2 separate regions of the Homo sapiens genome follow, and region 1 is linked to region 2. The links come from fine-mapping of genetic effects on gene expression. A gene starts in region 2. The other region holds a variant in brackets. All regions are shown on one strand. Distances are from middle to middle.

Region 1 (5,362 bases), 24 kb before region 2:
TTAAAAAATAATAAAAATAAGGCCAGTCGTGGTGGCTTATGCCTGTAATCCCAGCACTTTGGGAGGCAGAGGTGGGCGGATCACAAGGTCAGGAGTTCAGACCAGCCTGGCCAACGTGGTGAAACCCCATCCTACTAAAAATACAAAAATTAGCCGGGCGTGGTGGTGGGCACCTGTGGTCCCAGCTACTCGGGAGGCTGAGGCAGGAGAATCACTTGAACATGGGAGGCGGAGGTTGCAGTGAATCGAGATCGCCCCACTGCACTCCAGCCTGGCACACAAAGGAAGACTCCTTCTCAAAAAATAAATAAATAAAAAAAAATAAAAATAATAAAAAAGAGGACAGAGGGCCCCGAGGAGGTAGGAGGGATGCCCAGGGCCACCCCGCCGGCCCCACTAACCCCCCTGTGCTCCCCGGCCAGGACTCCTGCGGGCCAGCCTCTCCGAGGACCGCGCGGGGCTGGTGTCGGTGAACCTGCTGGTAACGTCGTCGGTGGCGGCCTTCGTGGTGGGAGCCGTGGTGTCCGGCTTCAGCGTGGGCTGGTTCGTGGGCCTCCGTGAGCGGCGGGAGCTGGCCCGGCGCAAGGACAAGGAGGCCATCCTGGCGCACGGGGCGGGCGAGGCGGTGCTGAGCGTCAGCCGCCTGGGCGAGCGCAGGGCGCAGGGTCCCGGGGGCCGGGGCGGAGGCGGTGGCGGTGGCGCCGGGGTTCCCCCGGAGGCCCTGCTGGCGCCCCTGATGCAGAACGGCTGGGCCAAGGCCACGCTGCTGCAGGGCGGGCCCCACGACCTGGACTCGGGGCTGCTGCCCACGCCCGAGCAGACGCCGCTGCCGCAGAAGCGCCTGCCCACTCCGCACCCGCACCCCCACGCCCTGGGCCCCCGCGCCTGGGACCACGGCCACCCCCTGCTCCCGGCCTCCGCTTCATCCTCCCTCCTGCTGCTGGCGCCCGCCCGGGCCCCCGAGCAGCCCCCCGCGCCTGGGGAGCCGACCCCCGACGGCCGCCTCTATGCTGCCCGGCCCGGCCGCGCCTCCCACGGCGACTTCCCGCTCACCCCCCACGCCAGCCCGGACCGCCGGCGGGTGGTGTCCGCGCCCACGGGCCCCTTGGACCCAGCCTCAGCCGCCGATGGCCTCCCGCGGCCCTGGAGCCCGCCCCCGACGGGCAGCCTGAGGAGGCCACTGGGCCCCCACGCCCCTCCGGCCGCCACCCTGCGCCGCACCCACACGTTCAACAGCGGCGAGGCCCGGCCTGGGGACCGCCACCGCGGCTGCCACGCCCGGCCGGGCACAGACTTGGCCCACCTCCTCCCCTATGGGGGGGCGGACAGGACTGCGCCCCCCGTGCCCTAGGCCGGGGGCCCCCCGATGCCTTGGCAGTGCCAGCCACGGGAACCAGGAGCGAGAGACGGTGCCAGAACGCCGGGGCCCGGGGCAACTCCGAGTGGGTGCTCAAGTCCCCCCCGCGACCCACCCGCGGAGTGGGGGGCCCCCTCCGCCACAAGGAAGCACAACCAGCTCGCCCTCCCCCTACCCGGGGCCGCAGGACGCTGAGACGGTTTGGGGGTGGGTGGGCGGGAGGACTTTGCTATGGATTTGAGGTTGACCTTATGCGCGTAGGTTTTGGTTTTTTTTGCAGTTTTGGTTTCTTTTGCGGTTTTCTAACCAATTGCACAACTCCGTTCTCGGGGTGGCGGCAGGCAGGGGAGGCTTGGACGCCGGTGGGGAATGGGGGGCCACAGCTGCAGACCTAAGCCCTCCCCCACCCCTGGAAAGGTCCCTCCCCAACCCAGGCCCCTGGCGTGTGTGGGTGTGCGTGCGTGTGCGTGCCGTGTTCGTGTGCAAGGGGCCGGGGAGGTGGGCGTGTGTGTGCGTGCCAGCGAAGGCTGCTGTGGGCGTGTGTGTCAAGTGGGCCACGCGTGCAGGGTGTGTGTCCACGAGCGACGATCGTGGTGGCCCCAGCGGCCTGGGCGTTGGCTGAGCCGACGCTGGGGCTTCCAGAAGGCCCGGGGGTCTCCGAGGTGCCGGTTAGGAGTTTGAACCCCCCCCACTCTGCAGAGGGAAGCGGGGACAATGCCGGGGTTTCAGGCAGGAGACACGAGGAGGGCCTGCCCGGAAGTCACATCGGCAGCAGCTGTCTAAAGGGCTTGGGGGCCTGGGGGGCGGCGAAGGTGGGTGGGGCCCCTCTGTAAATACGGCCCCAGGGTGGTGAGAGAGTCCCATGCCACCCGTCCCCTTGTGACCTCCCCCCTCTGACCTCCAGCTGACCATGCATGCCACGTGGCTGGCTGGGTCCTCTGCCCTCTCTGGAGTTTGCCTCCCCCAGCCCCCTCCCCATCAATAAAACTCTGTTTACAACCACCGGCCCCCATGACTCTGGCTCTGCTCTGCCTCCTGGGGGTGGCACGGGTGGGGGCACCCTCAAAAGTCAAGGCCAGGCCGGGCGCGGTGGCTCACGCCTGTAATCCCGGCACTTTGGGAGGCCGAGGTGTGCAGATCACTTGAGGTCAAGAGTTCGAGACTAGCCTGGCCAACATGGCAAAACCCCGTCTCTACTAAAAATACAAAAAATCAGCCAGGCTTGGTGGCGGGTTCCTGTAATTCCAGCTACTCGGCCGACTGAGGCAGAAGAATAGCTTGAATCTGAGAGTCAGAGGTTGCAGTGAGCTGAGATCACACCACTGCACTACAGCCTGGGTGACAGAGCGAGACGCTGTCTCAAAAAAAAAAAAAAAAAAAAGGCTGGGTCAAAACAAATCTGGGGAGCTGAGTGTGGAAACATGGAGACTTCGGGGTCCCCATCTTCATCTGCATAGGAGCCAGTTTCTTTTTCTTTTTCTTTTTCTTTTTTTGAGACAGAGTCTCACTTTGTCACCCAGGCTGGAGTATAGTGGCGCGATCTCGGCTCACTGCAACCTATGCCTCCTGGGTGCAAGCAATTCTCCTGTCTCAGCCTCTCCAGTAGCTGGGACTACAGGCACCCGCCACCACGCCCCGCTAATTTTTGTATTTTTAGTACAGACGGGGTTTCATCATATTGGTCAGGCTGGTCTCGAACTCCTGAACTCAGGTGATCCGCTTGCCTCGGCCTCCCAAAATGCTGGGATTACAGGCGTGAGCCACTGCGCCTGGCCAGCCTTATGAATTTTGTTTTAAGTGGGACAAGAAGCCATCAGAGAGTTTTAAGCAGGGATGTGATCTCATTTCATTTTAATGGATCGTTTTGTTACTGTGTCACTACATTTCACAAGCCTTCCT[TCCTC/C]TCAGTCCATGTTGATTAAGACCAACTAACGGCTGGGCTCCGGAGACTGGGCAGGGCACAAGACTGACGGAGTGCAGTGGCTCACGTCTATAACCCCAGCACTTTGAGAGACTGAGAAGATTCCTTGAGCCCAGGAGTTTGAGACCAGCCTAGGTAACATACAAAAGAATTTTTTAAATTAGCCAGGCATGGTAGCATGTGCCTGTATTCCCAGCTACTCGGGAGGCTGAGGCAGGAGAATCGTTTGAACCCAGGAGGTGGAGCTTGCAGTGAGCCGAAATTGCATCACTGCACTCCAGCATGGGTGGCAGAGGGAGACTCCATCTCAAAAAAAATTAGCCAGGCATGGTGGCACGTGCCCGTAGTCCCAGCTACTTGGGAGGCCTTGGACCCATGGTCAAAGCTACAGTTAGCTATGATTGCACCACACTGCTCCAAGCTGGGTAACAGAGCAAAATGCTGTCTCAAAAAAAAAAAAAAATGACGGGGCATGGTGGCTCACACCTGTAATTTTAGCAGTTTAGGAGGCCGAGGCCAGTGGATCACATGAGCTCAGGAGTTCAAGACCAGCCTGGGCCACATGGCAAAATCCTGTCTCTATTAAAAATATAAAAATTAACCAGGCACGCTGGTGCATGCCTGTAGTCCCAGCTACTCGGGAGGCTGAGGTGGGAGAATGGCGTGAACCCGGGAGGCGGAGCTTGCAGTGAGTGGAGATCACGCCACTGCACTCCAGCCTAGGCAACAGTGCAAGACTCTGTCTCAAAAAAAAAAAGAAAAAAAAAATAGTCATAGCTGCAGATAAAGGTGACACCATCATACCTAAATATTTAGAACTCAACAAGAATGCAAGCACTCTGCAGCCAAGTCCATGAGATGCAGCCAAAGCTGTTCTCAAAGGGAAATTTGTAGCCTCCAAACGCATTTAATAGGAAATGAGGAAGAATGGAAACAATAGCATGGATGTCAGATTCAGATGAAGAGAAAAAAGGGCAGAAGGAGCCCTTGGAGATTTGAGTTCAGCTTCATAGATGGGGAAACTGAGGCCAAGAAAAGTTAAGTCACTTGCCAAAGGTCACAAAGCAAAGGTGTTCATGACAGAGCTGGAATTCAGAACCAGGTTTGGTTCCTCCCAAGCCACTGTCTAAGGACCGTAGAGACGTTTGGCATTACTCACTATTGGACTGTATTTTTAAAATGACTTCTTTTAAAAAAAGCAATATCAACATACCATGAAATCAAGACGAGTTTTTTTGTTCTTTTCAGTGAGCTTCTGGGTTGCTCAAGTTTATGGTAAATCCCTCCTCTTGCTCAGAGAGCTGTCCCTGTCTCCAGGAATAGTGCCTTGCAAACCTTGACCCTTGAACTCCGGGTTGGGGGAAGTGAGGATGCAACTAGAGAGACTCTTGGATGCCCCCCAAAAATCAGGAAGCAAGGAAAGAAAAACCTGTGTTCTAGAAGCAGGGTCAAAAAGGGGTTGAACAGGAAACAATTTCCAGGAAGCAATTTTGTAATCCTGACCCCTCCCCTTCCCCTGCCTGGCTTAGGCTCAGCCCCTATCAGGAACTGGACGGGGGTGGGGACTTCCCCAGGGTTGGTTCCCCTGCCCCCAGTCCAGGCAGGTATAAGGCCACCTCCGCAGGCCAGGACAACCCAGAAGCAAAAGAGCAGAGCTACCATGTCCTCTTGGAGCAGACAGCGACCAAAAAGGTAGGTCCCCACACTACCTGTCCTAGGCAGGTTTGAACGCCAGACCATGCGGAGATACAGGACATTCCAGCTAACCCATAGAAGTCACAGGGAGCAGATACAGGCCTGGTGGCTGGCACAGATCAACCTTATCTGTGACAGAAAGACTGGCGCGTGCACACACACACACACCCCTACAGAAGCCCAGGTGGGCATGGGCAGCAGGGAGCCGGGGGAGGCTTCTTGTTAGAGGCCTGGGGCCACAGTGACCAAGGCTGTCGAGATCATGTCTGATGGCTGCCGGGCCAGGGAAGCCCTGGAGGAGGAGGGGAAGCCCCAGGCTTCCAAGGGTTGTGGTGCTAAGTGTAAACCACCGCTTCCCAAGGCCAAATGCCCACCCTCAGACCTGGCCA
Region 2 (5,362 bases):
CCCTGGGATTTTTCTTTTCTTTTCTTTTCTTTGGGGGGGTGGGGAAGGAGTCTCACTCTGTCACCCAGGCTGGAGTGCAGTGGCGCGATCTTGGCTCACTGCAACCTCCACCTCCCAGGTTCAAGTGATTCTCCTGCCTCAGCCTCCCGAGTAGCTGGGATTACAGGCGTGCGCCACCACACACAGCTGATTTTTGTATTTTTAGTAGAGATAGGGTTTTGCCATGTTGGCCAGGCTGGTCTCGAACCCTGACCTCAGGTGATCCACCTGCCTCGGCCTCCCAAGATGCTGGGATTACAGGCATGAGTCACCGCGCCTGGCCCATTAATTCATTTAATTTTTATTTAAAGATATATTTTGGGCAGCCGGGCACAGTGGCTCATGCCTGTAACCCCAGCGCTTTGGGAGGCCGAGGCAGGTGGATCACGAGGTCAGGAGATCGAGACCATCCTGCCTAGCACAGTGAAACCCTGTCTCTACTAAAAATACAAAAAATTAGCTGGGTGTGGTGGCGAGTGCCTGTAGTCCCAGCTACTCGGGAGGCTGAGGCAGGAGAATGGCATGAACCCGGGAGGCAGAGCTTGCAGTGAGCCGAGATCGCACCACTGTACTCCAGCCTGGGCGACAGAGCGCGACCCCGCCTCAACAGAAATATATATATATAAAATATATTTTTTTTATTTATTTTTTTTTTTTTTTCTTTTGTTCTTTTGAGGCGGGGTGGCGCTCTGTCGCCCAGGCTGGTCTCAAACTCCTGTGCTCAAGCCAATCCTCCTGCCTCGGTCTCCCTAAATGCTGGGGTTACAGGGTGAGCCATGGCACCTGGCCTGAGGTATATATTTTTTAAAGGGAGAGGAGATCCAGGAATGCCTCTTTGAGGAAGTGATATTTGAGGAAAGACCTGGAAGGAGGTGAGGGATGTGGGAAAGGGTGCTGGAGGCAAAAGCAACAACCCACACGAAAGCCCTGAGGAAGGGTGTGCGGGGCTAAGCAGGCACAGTCACGTGTGTCTTTGAGGGACTCTGTCCTGGCATGTTATGGGAACAGTGAAAAGGCCCGTGTGGCTGGAGCAGAGTGAAGAGAAGAAGGAGAGGAAGGTGGGGAGCAGACGAGGCAGGTTATGCAGGGCCTACCGGGCTGCAGGAAGGGGACTTGGGCTTTGACCCTGGGCTCCCACCCCGGAGAAGGTGGGAGCCATGGAGGGTGCTGGGCAGAGGAGGGGTAGATCCTGGCTGGGATGTTTATGATCACTTTTTAATTTTTTCTCTCCACACACTGGGCTGTGGCTGCCCTTTGGGAAGGGGAGGGGCACCCAGAGCTCTCCCAGCCACCCTTGGGAAGCACTGGCTGGTAGAAGAGGTTGGGGGACACCCCCCCTTCTGTTCCCCCACTGTTTGGCAAACACAGTGTCGGCTCCAAGGAGACAGACGGCCTGGGAATCATCAGATCCTGTGGCTGTACCCTCCCTCCTCCCAGCCCAGTGCCCAGAGCCACCCATGGGGTCTGCCCTCTCACCCCCAATAACACAGGGCTAGGAACCCTGTCTCAGGGGCAGGTAGGAGGGGGACACAGCCCAGGGTGGGCGTTACGGCCATTCCTCTGCCCACCCACCCACAGACAGCCCAGCACATAGGCTGGGCTCAGCACGAAGGTCCTGGGTCTGGGTTTGAATCCCGTCCTCACCACTTCCTGGAACAGGAGGGTCTGGGTTTGAATCCCATCCTCACCACTTCTGGAACAGGACGCCTCCTCCAGGGAGCCTCCCTGGGTTGGCCCAAGCCCCCCAGGCTGGGTTTCCACTCCTAGGGTGCCCCCAGCTTGGCTGGTGCTCCATCTTGGTCTGCGTTTTGGCCCAAGTCCCTTCCGGAGAGTGATGGGCTCCCCTCCACACTGAGGACACCCCCTGCTCCTTGCCGAGACCCCGAGACCCCGCTTCTGCCTGGGTAACGCGAAGGCAGCATTTGTTCAGTGCATGACCTCATCTCACAGAGGCTCACAACCACTCTCTGTGTTGCTCCATTGAGCCAAACGTGTATTAAGCGCCAAATGTATGCCAGGCACTGTTCTGTGGGCGGAAGAGGGTGCCCTGTGGGAACCTGCAGGGAAGGTGTTCCAGGCAGAGGGCACAGCCCGTGCAGAGGCCCTAAGGCAGGACCGTGCCAGGTGCGCTGGAGGCATAGCGAGGAGGCCTGTGTGGCTGGGATGAAGCAAGCGAAGGAGGAAGCTGGGGGAGATGAGAGCAGAGAAGAAGCTGGATGTTACGGGACGTGGTGCGGAGTACGAGAGAGAAACCTGAAGCAAAAAGATGGTAACTGGCCAAGGCATCCTGGTGCAGCAGAGATTTGAACTACACCCACCTCGTGGATGGAACTGGAGGCTCAGGGGCCCGGGAGGGGAGCCCATCTGGCCTGTGAGCCACTCAGCCTGATGCAAGCTGTGGGCAGGAAACAGGGGAAAGGTGCTGGGCCTGGGCCCATGCTGGGCTGGGCAGGTAGCCATGTGACCGTCCAGGCCACCTCCCCCGGGCCCATTGGCCGCCTGCCGCTGCTGGCTGGGCCTGCGCCTGCCCCGGACCCTATAAGGCCAGGGAGCTGAGGGTAGAGCCAGCTGCCAGCCGGGCCGGTCCGTCCTCCAGGGGACCCCGCGCAGTCCAGGTGAGCGGGGCCGCGTCTGCTTCGGTGACACCAGGGTGAGGCCAGGCCTGCAGGTGGGTGTCGGGCTGCTCAGGCTTTCAGTGGGGAGTGGGTGTGGGATGGGAGGCTAGGGAACCCCCATTCACGCACCTTCTCTGCCCCCTTCCAGCTTCTCACGTTCTCACTATGTCTGCTCCAGACGAAGGGAGACGGGATCCCCCCAAACCGAAGGGCAAGGTAAAGAGGGGAAATGGGGCAGATTCTTGCTGGGGCCTGGAGATGCCCCAGAGCCGGGGAAGGTGACCTCCACAGTCCTGGGGTCTCGAATCTGGAGAGGTGCTTCCCTGGTGGGCTGGTGGGGGCGGTCTGGGAGCCATGATGCCAATCCCTTCCTTTCTGACCCAAGCTGGAGGCGGGGGACCCACGCAGACCTCGACACCTTCCCCAGCAAGTGACCTTGGGCCGGCCTCAGCTCCGCCCCTCTCTGAGCCTCAGTTTCCCCATCTGTGCAGTGGGGATCCTGGAAGGAAAAGGTCTTTGGAGATCGGGTAGACGATCTTTTCCTCTGTGCATGGGAGGCAGGCTGAGTCTGCCCATTGCCCAGGTGTGGAAATTGAGGCTGAGTGGCTGAAACACTTTCCTGAGGTCACCCAGGAGCAAGGGGCCGGGGCGGCATTGGGCTGATCAATCGATGCTTCCTCTGACCCGTTCCTGCCGAGGCTTGGCCTGCTCATCCTGCACACCCCCCGCCCCCATGCAGACCCTGGGCAGCTTCTTTGGGTCCCTGCCTGGCTTCAGCTCTGCCCGGAACCTGGTGGCCAACGCACATAGCTCGGCGAGAGCCCGGCCGGCCGCTGACCCCACAGGAGCGCCTGCTGCCGAGGCTGCCCAACCACAGGCTCAGGGTGAGTGGCTGGCCCAGCTGGGGGCGTGGGGGGACTCTACACATGGACCTGGGAGAAGGAGCTCCCCGGGCAGGGACTTCCAGCCATTTGGGGAGTCCTCCATATTTGTCTGTGTGCTCTCATCAGACACTAGGACATCTTGTGGTGGATGGGGAAACTGAGGCATAAATATGGGGGGTGAGTGGCCGAAGGTGGCTTTCAACCCAGCCTGTCTCCCTGCAATGCCCCCCCACTCAGTCCCTCGGCCGTTCCCCCACCCTGCACTCCGTTTCTGATGCACCATGGCCCAGGCTGGGTGCTCTGCCCATCTGAGCTCATCAGAGTGAGATCCAGACTCCCAGGGAGGAGCAACAGCTCCCCTGGGGTCACACAGCCCAGGGGCTCCCCAGCCTCCTGTGGCTCAGCTTGGGCGATCAGGGACGGTGACAGGGAACCCAGGGTTGGGGCAGCCGCCTGAGCTGGGCCTCCCTCTGGGCCCAGAGCCCCAGGCAGCTGACTTCTGCTCCACATGCCTTGGCCTGGCAATAGGCAGCAGGCAGCTGCGGTGGGGGCGGGGCGGGCTGGGCAAGGGGCTGTTCCCCCATGCCAGGCTATATGAACCCCGGGACTCAGGGTGGGTGTCCACCCAGCAGAGGAAGTTCCACAGAGCCCTACTTCAGGGAACAGCGGCCCTGGGCTTGGGGGGAGCCCCCAGCGGGGTTGGGGGGTGACCAGGTCTGGCTGGTAGCCGTGGATGTCACCTCCTGCTGTCCCTGGCGGGGTAGCTGAAACATTCCTGACCTTTTAGGCTGTGCCTGGCTATTGTGCAATGGGCAGCCGGGTAGATGGTTCTAACTGCATCCCTCACTCTCCCTGACCGGCCCCTGTCCCCACAGTGGCTGCCCACCCAGAGCAGACGGCCCCATGGACGGAGAAGGAGCTGCAACCTTCGGAAAAGGTGAGAGGATGTGCAGGGCAGGGTCTGATGTGGCAGGAGCCCTGGGGGTGCCCCCTCCTGCGACATTTCAGTTCCTGCTATCTGGGGGGCTGCTCCCTCCTGGGACATTTCAGTTCCTGCTATCTGGGGGGCTGCTGTGGGCCTGAGGGAAGGCAGACAGCCTGGGGATCCCAGGCGGAGCTTCCCCTCTGAGCCTCTATTTCCACATCTGTGAAATGGGTGCAGTGCTACCCCACTCTAATCACGTAAGGTTCCAGTCTACACAGGGCTGTGCCTGGCAAGATGAGACCAAAGCGACAGCAGCGTAAGCACTTTATTTCTTCTACTTTTATTTTTTGAGATGCAGTTTTGCTGTTTCACCCAGGCTGGAGTGCAGTGGCACAATCTCAGTTCACTGCAACCTCTGCCTCCCAGGTTCAAGCGATTCTCCTGCCTCAACCTCCTGAGTAGCTGGGACTACAAGTGCTCACCGCCATGCCCAGCTAATTTTTGTATTTTTAGTAGATACGGGGTTTCACCATGTTGGTTTCACCAGGCTGGTCTCCAACTCCTGACCTCAAGTGATCCACCCACCTCAGCCTCCCAAAGTGCTGGGATTACAGGCATTAGCCACTGCGCCTGGCAAGAGGATCTGTTTTAATCAGCATTTTCCAGATGAGGATATTAGCTCAGAGAGGGCATGTGGCTTGCCTAAGGCCACACAGCGAGTGTCGGGAGCAGGAGAGGGTAAAAAGCTGGGACTTGAACCTGGGTCTCTCCAACTACAGGGCCCAAGGTGCCCACCTGAGCCAAAGCTGGGAGATGTGTTCTGAGAATACAATTTCCGGGCTTCTCAACCTCAGTACTGTGGATATTTGGGGTTGGATCATTCTCTGGGGTGGGGCCAT

The links. PIP is the estimated chance that this variant, and not a neighbour inherited with it, causes the effect.
Region 1: its variant is fine-mapped to the expression of PLIN4 in whole blood (TOPMed, PIP above 0.99).

What each region holds. Positions count from the first base shown.
Region 1 is chr19:4,539,590-4,544,951 of GRCh38, reverse strand. It overlaps LRG1 (leucine rich alpha-2-glycoprotein 1), which reads left to right and starts at 4,916. Exons shown (of 2, transcript NM_052972.3): 1 at 4,916-4,970. The coding sequence starts at 4,939. SEMA6B (semaphorin 6B) reads left to right here. Exons shown (of 17, transcript NM_032108.4): 17 at 423-2,359. The coding sequence ends at 1,351. The variant TCCTC/C (reference allele first, on the strand shown) is at 3,257.
Region 2 is chr19:4,515,730-4,521,091 of GRCh38, reverse strand. It overlaps PLIN4 (perilipin 4), which reads left to right and starts at 2,606. Exons shown (of 8, transcript NM_001367868.2): 1 at 2,606-2,707; 2 at 2,803-2,870; 3 at 3,394-3,538; 4 at 4,414-4,475. The coding sequence starts at 2,820.